Regions from separate parts of the Homo sapiens genome. Here region 2 is linked to region 1. The links come from fine-mapping of genetic effects on gene expression. A gene starts in region 1. The other region holds a variant in brackets. All regions are shown on one strand. Distances are between the middles of the regions. Region 1 holds the start of PNPLA4 (patatin like domain 4, phospholipase and triacylglycerol lipase). Region 2 overlaps PNPLA4 (patatin like domain 4, phospholipase and triacylglycerol lipase).

Evidence for each region. PIP is the estimated chance that this variant, and not a neighbour inherited with it, causes the effect. A credible set is the group of variants that fine-mapping cannot tell apart.
Region 2: its variant is the best candidate, but not a certain one, in a credible set for the expression of PNPLA4 in whole blood (TOPMed, PIP 0.77).

The regions. Positions count from the first base shown.
Region 1 is chrX:7,925,378-7,930,761 of GRCh38, forward strand. It overlaps PNPLA4 (patatin like domain 4, phospholipase and triacylglycerol lipase), which reads right to left and starts at 2,036. Exons shown (of 7, transcript NM_004650.3): 1 at 1,909-2,036; 2 at 563-755. The coding sequence starts at 742. It overlaps LOC107985675 (a long non-coding RNA gene), which reads left to right and starts at 2,123. Exons shown (of 5, transcript XR_001755784.2): 1 at 2,123-4,036. RefSeq lists a silencer at 471-765 and enhancers at 742-791, 1,454-1,683, 1,914-2,153, 2,174-2,223, 2,564-2,643.
Region 2 is chrX:7,895,967-7,901,350 of GRCh38, forward strand. It overlaps PNPLA4 (patatin like domain 4, phospholipase and triacylglycerol lipase), which reads right to left. Exons shown (of 7, transcript NM_004650.3): 7 at 2,281-4,851. The coding sequence ends at 4,720. Among named protein-coding and RNA genes, the nearest start is that of PNPLA4, 29 kb to the right of the region's middle. The variant G/A (reference allele first, on the strand shown) is at 3,306.

The DNA of each region.
Region 1 (5,384 bases):
AGATTTTAAAACATAGATTGCATTAAATAAAGTACTTAATGAATAATTATTTGTATTACTTCTGGATAAATTGCTTGGAACTCAGAGCTTCCTCTTACTGTGAGAATTAAAAAAGAATTAAATTCCTATACCATTCCACTTAATAGAAACTGCATGCCCACATTTTAATTTATGTATCTATTTCTAAGTAGCAGTGAGGTAAGACTTGTTGCCCACATGTTCAAGGCCTTGAAAACAGGCCCCATGCTCTTCTCATGATCATAGAAAGAAGAAATATCCTTTGCTTGAAAGGAACAGAGCTGGAATCTTAAGGATAAATAAAAACTCAAGAGTAATATAAGTCATTTTATTTCCTTATTTCACTATCACCCAAAATAATCTTTTCCACAACCAGAGCACAGATCCCTAATAATTACATCTTAAGAGAAAAGTCCTAATCCTTTCTGTTTCCAAGCAAACGATTATTTCTCTGCAGTGTTAACTTAGTAGAGTCAATGCTGGTGTTTGCCTTTGGGTCTTAATTTCTTGATGAGGAACACAGCCTAAGTTACTACTTAATTACCTCTATTTTTTCTGGTGCTGTTAGCAGAACAGAAGCAACCAACGATCCCGCAGACGCCCCAGCGAAGGCTTTGACATCCTTCACAAGTTTTTTGCCATGTCTGCAAAGTGCAGATGCTGCCCCCAAGTGGTAAATGCCCAGAAATCCACACGCTGCAAATGATAGGTTGATGTGCTTCATTCTAGCTGTAGCACTGGCAATACAAAAAACAAAAATGCTGTAAGTTGGAATAGTTTATCCCACATACTGTGTAGTCTTATGTTGATCATCGTTCCAAGGCTTTCTTCTAACATCATTCTCTGTTTTAAGCACAGTGGTTTCAATTAATTCTAATTAAACACAAGAATCTTTCAAGGAAACCCTTTCTTTCCCTCCTCACCTTGACCCAAGTCTTATACATTAAAACAAAACAAAACAAAAACATTCCACATTTATTCGGTACATAGATTATGAATCTACGATTTAATTACTTGGCAGGAAACAGACGTATAAATTCCAGTTGACAAGGGCATTTGGTCTTTTCTCTTGACCCTTTGAAACGTTTTGCGGGTGGGGGCGGCACTACCATTATGAAACAGAAAATTATTAGAGACCGTATCAAATTCCAAATGAACAATACATTTGTTCTTGGTAAGTGTATCAGAAGATTTCAAATACAGTTCCCTACTCCCCTTCCCAATTTCTATTGTGAGCACCCATGCTTTTATGAACGCCAATACAATTACTCAGTAACGCAATAAGCAATCACTCAACAATGCAATACATTTCTTTGCCAAGTATCTCAACACAAACTGAGGTCATGCCTGGTGAAGGCAATTTAAGGCTCTATGAAATGTCAGCCACGCCACTTTATACTTGGAACACATCTAAATACAAAATTACATGTTTTCCTATGCCTCAGTGCGCACAATTTGCCCAAGTGAATGAAATTGTGCCTCCACAAGGCTGTCCATTCTGAAGGTCTCAGGGTTTCCTTGGGGGCCCAAGGGCCCCATTCAGGGACCCCAAGATGAGGCACATTACAGGGCCTCGAATTTAGGGACCTAAGACCGCCTGTTCCTGATGCACCCGGCCAGGCCCTGTGAGGGCAGGTGGCTCGGCCGCCGCAGGCTGCGCTGGCGTCCGCGTAGGCTGAGTCCCAGTCATCGATCCGGGGTCAAGCCCCAGTTTTGATTCCACTTCTGCAAATGGGGACGGGAAGGGGGTTGGGTGTGTAGCAACCAGGCGGCCAGGCCCAGCCAGCACAGGCTCAGTGCCCTCCCGCGGCTTGGAGGCCGGCAGGGCCGGGGTGGTCCCCGCATCAGTCCCGCAGGAGCACACCCTTGCTGGGCCCCAGGGCTCCGTACCAATGCAGCCCCGGGACACTTCCGTGTTGAACGAGTCCCTTTAACCAGATGGCGGGGCCGGGCCGTCACTCAACGCCATTCCGCCACCAAGGCCGCGCTACGCTCTCCGCGAGCCGGCCCAGGAAAGTCCTGCGGCAGGGGTTGGTACCGCCTCCCGCGCAGGTATGTGACGTCATCGCGCCGACGAAGGCGCCCGCTAGGCCCCGCCTGCTCTATTTAAACTTCTGGACTCAACCTGGCCGCTAGACCGGAGCGTCCTCCAGCGCAGGCAAGGATTCCTCGTTTAGAGTCATGTTATCTTCGAGTACCTAGAGAGACATTTTAACCCACACCCTAGAGAGGCGTTGTAATCCTTACGTGTCTTTTAACGCTACTTGGCCCTTACCTGCGAGCAACTGACCTTTAATAATCCTCATTTTCTGTGCCCCGGAAGTGCCTTACCCTCTTCGCGTCTGTTTCCCGGAAGTGGTTCTTCTCCCTCTCCACCCTTTCGCCCGCCTGGGCGGTCCAGCTGCCCCTAGGGGCCAACTCCAGCGGCTATTTTGGGGCTGGACATCCCGCAGCTTTTCAAGGCGTGCCTTTGGTTTTTTTAAGAAGTGCTATCTAAAGGAAAAGCTGGACTATGACTCTGGGGAACTTTCATATCCTCAGTTGACCTTAGGCTGTGTGACCTTGAGCAGGTAGCATAACCTCTCTGAGTTTCCCGCGTGCCTTATGTGCAGATTGAGATGCTAAAATGAGAGAGCTAAATTGGAAAGCTTTTTCCACATAGGGGGCCGTGAGCAGGTGGCTGTTTTGTCCTCTGGCACCTTTGGCTCAGACTTAAGCAGCTTCAACGACCGCCAAGATGCCTGCCATGCCCACCAAGATTTAAAGGACTCTGATAATTCTTTCTCTCCCCAAACGGTGTTTTCCTTATCTAATCCTAATAACCAAGCCTGGAGGAATCCCTGACTTCGTGATTGAAGGCTCTCCAGGTCCCCTAGTTTAAGGGCAGAGATTTACTTTCTCTGAGGCTACAAAGGAGCGTCTGCGAGAATGTCTCTACCTTAGACAAAACAGGGAGGAGGGGTGGAGCTCTCCAAATTGCCTCTGGTTTGGGCTTTTTCTTTCTGTTTTGGTGTATCGTCTCTGGCCAACAACACCTGTGAGTCCTTGATGTGACGATTAGGGAAGATGTTTTTAATTCACATAACTATTCTTTAGAGAAAATTGATCCTGAAACACCTTATTGCCTTATCGTAGAATGACTGCATTACTCAGAATTCTTTACCTCTACCGGAATTTAGTGAAGGGAAGGCACAACGTACATTAGGAAAATACAGGACACACTCCAGTCCTTAAACCTTCCACAATCTTCTAGCTCTTTAAGGTCGAGTGTGATCCTCCCCAGAACTGCATCTTCCAGGAAGCTCATGAGAAAGGAAGGATCCCAGGTCCCATCTCTGATCTGAGTCGGCATCTGCGTTTTAACAGAATCCTGAAGCAGTGGTCTAACTCCTTTGGTGGTGTTATTGTTTGCATGTATACCTCCAAAATTCACATATTGAAATACTAACCCCCAAGGTGATAGTATTAGGAGGTGGGGCCTTTGGGAGGTAATTAAGTCATGAGGGTGAAGCCCTCATGAATGGGATTAGTACTCTTAGAAAAGGGACCCCAGAGAGGTCTCTTTCCACCATGTAAGGATAAAAGTACACGGAGAAGATGGCAATCTGCAAACTGGAAAAGGGCCCTCCTCAGAACCTGACCATCTTGGCACCTTGATCTCAGACTTCCATCTTCCAGAACTGTGAGAAATAAATTTCTTTTATAAACACTCAGTCAATGCTACTTTATTATAGCAGCCTGAATGGATTAAGACAGGTGGTCTGGTTTAAAGTGATGTGGTGGCATCAGAAGTTTAAGGAGAGACTGGATTTACAGAACCAGAATCTGGGATGCTGTTTACAGAGCAAGTTATTTCCTGCATTTGGACACTGTCAGCAGGTCGATTCAGGAGACAGGTGAAAACTTTATCACCGGGCAGCCTGGATGAACACCACAACTTTGATATCTTTCACTTAAAGGAAAGATAAGGGCATCCACTATTTCTACACCTGGCTGGCAGAGTGAGAGCTCACCAAAGGTAAGTCTCTTTGGAGCAGCAAAATGCTCCATAATTTAACTCTTAAAATTTTAAATTTATTTCCTCCTTACTCCCTTCAATCCCGTATCATATCTCCATGTAACTAGTTAAAAGTTCAGCTCTCAGCTGGGTGAGGTGGCATGTGCCTGTAGTCTCAGCCACTCAGGAAGCTGAGGTGGGAGGATTGCTTGAACCTAGGAGTTCATCTTCAGCCAGAGCAATGTAGTGAGACCTCATCTCTAAAGAAAAAACAAAAAACAAAAAAAGTTCAGCTTTCTAATGTAAGGAAGGATATATTCATTCACATTTGTCTTTGTCATCTCATCGCCAAGCTTAGCACTTGGCCCATAGTATATGATCAATAAATATTTGTTTTGGATGTTGGATTTATGTAAATTACCATTGTGATCTGAATATATAGTAATTTAATTGCTCTTTGAAACTTTTTTTTCTGTAATTAATTTGCTTATTTTTGCTCGTCTATTTTCCTTAGTAATTTAGTTTCAAACGGGTTTGTTTATTTAGCCATTTACGTAATTATTAATCATCTGTTGTATAGCAAGTGTTACGTTGGTACAGGGCATACACAGTTGAAAGAATTCAGCCCTTATCAGGGATGCAGAGTCCAGTGGATAGGGAGACATCTGATGTGTAATTACAGAGGCGTGATGATGTGGTATTGCAAAGCCATGCACAGATGCCCTGGTTGTGCACACCAGCTACGGAGTAGGAAACCTTTAGCTTCGGGAGGTGCCTACAGTAGCACCCAGCACAGAAACAAAATGCCCCAGCTTGATGGCTCCTTTTCCTCTCCAGTGCTTCCTCTCAGGAGATTTTATCCTGTATCCCATAAGGGAGGAGAAATGGACATGGGTAAGTGTTGCTTGTCCACACCTCTGCTCCAGGGAAAGGACCATATCTCAGAATCTTTGAGTCTAATCAGTTCTTTCAGTCTACTCTCCTTGTGGTGTTATTTCATTTTCCAGTCTTGGCATTTTTTTTTTTTTTTTGAGACAGAGTTTTGCTCTTGTTGCCCAGGCTAGAGTGCAATGGCGCCATCTCAGCTCACCGCAACCTCCGCCTCCCGGGTTTAAGCGATTCTCCTGCCTCAGCCTCCCGAGTAGCTGGGATTACAGGCATGTGCCACCACGCCCTGCTAATTTTGTATTTTTAATAGAGACGGGGTTTCTCCATGTTGGTCAGGCTGGTCTCGAACTTCTGACCTCAGGTGATCTGCCCGCCTCGGCCTCCCAAAGTGTTGGAATTACAGGCGTGAGCCACTGTGCCCGGCAGGCATCTTAACACCTCTTGTCGGTCAACGTTACAAGTGCTTTGGTTTTTTAAAAAA
Region 2 (5,384 bases), 29 kb before region 1:
TAGCAGCAAGTAATAGACCCTGGCTGTGTTAAGTCACACAGAGCAGGTACTGGAAGGATATGATATGAACAGTTCCTACTATTGGCAGCTGGTAGGAGAACAGGCTTCTAAAACTCAGCTACTTGGCATCAGGTTGGCCATCCTAGGTCACTGTGGCTGCCACTGTTTCTGAGGTGACATTGACTTTCCTCAATCATTCTCTATTCCAGGTGGCTTCCTTTTCAGGCACAGGTCAGGTGATCAGAGTCCATTTTCCAGTGACATGACTCAAACCTTAGGTCCTCAGGGATGTGTACCCTTGCTTCTGCCATATAAGGTTGCAATGGCTTCCCACTAACTATTCCACTAGTGCTGGTTGTAGACTGGATAACCGGAGGGGTTACCCCAATTTCATGCTCATTCCTCCCTATCCCCATCATATGGCAGCAAATCCATCTCCCCTTGACAAGTACAATAAGATCATCCATTACCATGATTCTGTTCAGCCAGTAGGAGGAGGAACCAGAAATGGCAAAATAGAACAGATCATTTCCCTCACTGGGAGTGATTGGCGCTAGTAACCCCCTTGGATTTGAAATTGTCAAGAGATAGTTCTGACTGAGGTTGATCAGTAGAGCTAAATTGCCTAGTTCCATGACCTTGCCAGGAACCAAGTTTTGGGGTTGATGTGTCCACAGTGTCAATAAGCCCAGTGATCACCCCTTCGACCATTTTACCTTCTTCCTGGAGTAACTTCAGGATTTGAACATGTGTCATCCTGAGCCTTTCCTCCAGGGGGTCCTCTTGTGAGTGGTGGGTGTCCAGGTGAGTGGTGGGTGAGGGGTAATAGTGAAGTCCCTGTCTTGGCTAGCAACAGACACCAGCACATCTCGCTGTTGGACAAAAGGAGAAGCAGCCACCGTAAATCTTCCTCAAGCTTCCTGGCCCTTTCACATTGCTTGTGTGGCCTGAATTATCTCACATGATTGTTTTCTTAGTTGCTCAGGTGAGCTCCGTGAAGGGAGGGATCCACAAAAGTGCCCAGTAGACTTTTGCACGGCCCAAGTCCAATCTTGCAAGGGACAGTTTATGAATCAGGGACCCACCTGCAGGGCCATGAGCTTGGCCATAGCTGGAAGGTCATGTTGCAAAGCCATTGAGCCCATCAAGGGAGGGCTGATATTCTTGGACTGGCTGGAACTGTGGGGCTTTCCAAGAGTAGAGTACGCATATGCACTTTACTAGGTCTGTCCACAAAAGTGAATCTGACTATATAAAGGTTAAAGAGCACTTATAAACTCAGTGAAATCGGGCATTACATAAATGCTGCTTCATCTCGGCACAGTTAAAATGCAGCTGCTGTGACATGTTTTAGGTATGTGTATATGTACATACATATATATGTGCAAGTATGTTTGTTCATATTCATGTTTTTCACAAATTATCTTATTTCAAGATTAAGTTGGATGTGATATTATGACTTGTACATGACTGTGTACTCAGACATGCATTCTAAAGTATGAATAAAGTTAAATCATATTTCTCCCCTCTAAGTCAGTCAAAATGGGGAAATTATACTGAGTTAGGGGATATGTGTGAGGAAAAATAAACATGTGTGTTAGCATTAAGTAAGCAGAGCTTTGAGTTGTGCAGTTAGAAAAAAATTGAAGTGCAGAACTAAGCAAATAAATGGTGAATTCTGCCCAAAGAAACTGTCAATTTGCAAATCAGAATCATGATAGCTGTCTAAAAATCTGTCCACTTTACATGAACTGCAATAACTGCCTTCCTTCCTACTTTATTTAGATAATTACTTCAACTTCTGATTTTATTTTGCTATCACGTAGACAAAATTTAGGCAAGAAAAATCCCAAAACACTGATCTTCCATAGTTAGGCTCCTCAATTGTAAAAGTAATAGACTGGATCCAAAAACTTTCTACGACTAATATTTATAAACATGTTTTTATGTAATTGTATTTATCTTTTTTAATCTTCCAAAAAATTAAAAGCATAATCACTAATATCTGTGTATTTTGAGTGCTCATGCTTGTTTAGAATCAAAATTCAATGCCCAGAGTGGTGAGACTGTATCTTTGCAAGCTTCTAGTATACACACCCTGCACCTGATATTAAGAACCCAGAATTAACAGTTTTTTTTTCTTTCTTACTTTTTAATATATGGCTTGTTCCTTTAGAGCACTATTGAACTTCAAAACCAAACCTATTTTCTCTAATTGTCAATGGAAGCACTGGGTTACCATAGTTACATAGTAAAGTGTCTTATTGAAAAGAAGAAAAGGAAGACTAATGACATTTTTAATGACAGATTCAAATATATAAGGAAATTGCCCCCACAGGGAATTGGGAATTTATCAAGCTGCCAATCACAGTAATTACCCTGCAAACATATCAGTATCTGGGTCAGAAACTCCTTTCAGATTTTCTATATGCCAGTTCTACAATGCCTCAAAATTTTGATCCCACAAGTGAGGCAGATCCTGTTGTGAATGCCTGTTTTCAATTAGTATGGCTGCATGAGCACACACTCCAGCAAAGGTAAGCAGAGCATGCTTGGTAGCATGCTCACAGGAGAATTTGGTGCACCAGCCCCGGAGAGCGCCTAGTGTGCACCAAGTATGTGTTTCATTACACCGCTGTATTCCCCTCATGTAGGAAAGTTGCTGCAGACTGATACGTCAATGATCTTACAGTATTTTTAAAGAAAAGTACCAACACCTGGGTGATAAATTAATCTTTACAACAAACCCCCGTGACACAAGTTTACCTATAACAAACCTGTACACGTACCCCTGAACTTAAAATAAAAGTTAAAAAGAAAAGTACCATCCTCCCACAGGGTCAAATACATATGTAGTCGATACAAGATACTTCAAAAAAGTCTTATACAATGAGATTTGGTTTTGCAGCTTAAATTTCTTCAATTTAAGGGTACATCAACAAGGAATTTATTGAAATACAGTGTATCATACAAATAGAATATTCACATGAAATGATCAAAGGAAGGGGTAAGGAGAAAAGTATTAAAACTGAAAATTTACCTAGTGAATAAGTGGACATAACAATTGAGAATCTATCCACTTCATGTCACTTATGGAAACAACACATTAAGATTAAACTACATGTTTGCTAGAGTAGGAGAAAGTATATACCACAGGGACCATCATTACTCTAGAGTGGGTCTATGCATAACTCCTCAAAAAGAGGCCATCGTTGGTGTTTATGTGCTAAAAGTTGTGTATTTTGGCTTCTGAGAACCATAAAATTGACTCAAAGAATAGTTTCAAAGAGTAAAAGAAGAAATGC[G/A]TGACAATTGAAGACATGGAATTAAATTGGTTTGTCTCTAACTGCCTCTTAGTAATCAAGAGTTCTTGCTTGGCAAAACCTCATAAAAACAGATTTAGGATTTAAGACAGTGTCAGTAAATTGGTACAAGCCCATACACAAGTCCTCAAAGTGATGGACAACTACTCAGAAAGTAAAAAACCTGGGATCAGTACAACGTGATTTAAAAATGAGAAGTGAATGATTATTCTGGATTTAATTCTTATTTACTAGGCTACTTGGTTCTTTGTGTTTAGTAGTATTTTATCTATTTAAGTTCCCATAATAGATGTATCCAGTATATAGAACAATAGCTAAATACTCAGAGAGGTATGGCGAGAGAGAGAGAGAGAGAGAGAGAGAGAGAGAGAGAGAGAGAGAGAGAGAGAGAATGAATGACAACCAGCTTGATAATCTCCTAAACTGGGGTGGGGTTTAGGGGAGGAAGATGAGAGGGGATAAGCCTCTTCAAAATCTCCTAGGCTTCTGGATATCTGCCCCTAACTGCACTGGGAGCAACTGCACACACCTGTGGAAAGCAAACTGTTATGGTTTGGCTGTGTCCCCACCCAAATCTCATCTTGAAGTGTATGTAGCTCCCACAATTGCCACACGTTGTGGGAGGGACCCAGTGGGAGGTAACTGAATCATGGAGGCAGGTCTTTCCCATGCTATTCTCATGATAGTGAACGAGTCTCAAGAGATCCGATGGTTTTATAAAGGGGAGTTTCCCTGCACAAGTTTTCTTCTCTTGTCTGCTGCCATGTGAGACATGCCTTTCACCTTCCACCACAATTGTGAGGCCTCCTCAGTCATGTGGAACTGTGAGCCCATTAAACCTTTCTTTTGTAAATTGCCCAGTCTTGGGTATGTCTTTCTCAGCAGTGTGAAAATGGACTAATACACAAACCTTTGTTCCTCCAGTCCTGATCAAAGGTCTTTAACCATGAGTTGCCTATTTCTCAAATCCTTCCTCTCCTACCTAGTTCCTTCAGTTCCAGAGCTACAGGGACACAGCTAAGTCACGGAAACACCCATGCTTCACGTCAAGATCATGCCACATATTCTCCATGGAACCTAAGTGGTGGCCCTCCATTTTCCATGTTCCTCAATTTACCCAAAGAACCTATCCTCCTCCATTTTTTAAAGGACACAACAGTTCACCAAAAATGATTCCTTATCACCTAAGTGTATCCTTCTTAATGACGTTGTCAAATTCTAATAAAGTGCCTCTTATATCCATGTGCTAAGTAATAATTCAAATATTAAAAATAAACACAAATATTACAAGGAGTAATACAATTGAGTCATGATAGATTTTCTAAAAAGGATTTGATTAGAAACTTCCATCAAAAACTATCTAAAACGTGTTTTGCATTATAAACTTTTATGCATTTTATTCAAACCAATTTTCTTTAAGTAAAAACTTAACAGTGTCATCAAAACCACACTGATACAAAGATTCCATTTTCCTCTTGCTTGGGGGAAAAAGGGCTTGGTTGAGTCTCACCAGGTTTGCCAGGGACAACTAGAATAAAAAGACCAAAATTTAAGCTGTAGGATATTGCAGTACAGGTAAATATACACTATTTTTATAATCTAGGTTTTCTTATCACAGATACAATTAGCAGTAACAAAAAATCAGTAGGAAAAATTTAAACTTCAGAAGTTACCTCCACTGATACACTAAAGGAGAGTTTCTCAGCCTTGGTACTGCTGACATTTGGGGCCACGACGTCTTAACTGTGGGACAGTCATGTGCACTGCAGGACGTTTAACACCATTCCTGGCCTCTACCCACCAGATGCCAGTAGCACCACTGGGACATGATAACCAAAAATGTCTAGTACAATATCATCCCATGTGGAAAACTATTAGACTAGATTAAGGGAATCAGTATTTTTATGTCAATTATTCATTTGGGTCCCTAAGTTTTTCTCCACTATTTTTATATATTTCATTACCTCCATCTTTCTAAGCAAATAAATGATTTTATTTAAAATTGCTCTGGGCCAGGCGTGGTGGCTGAGGCCTGTAATCCCAGCACTTTGAGAGGCCGAG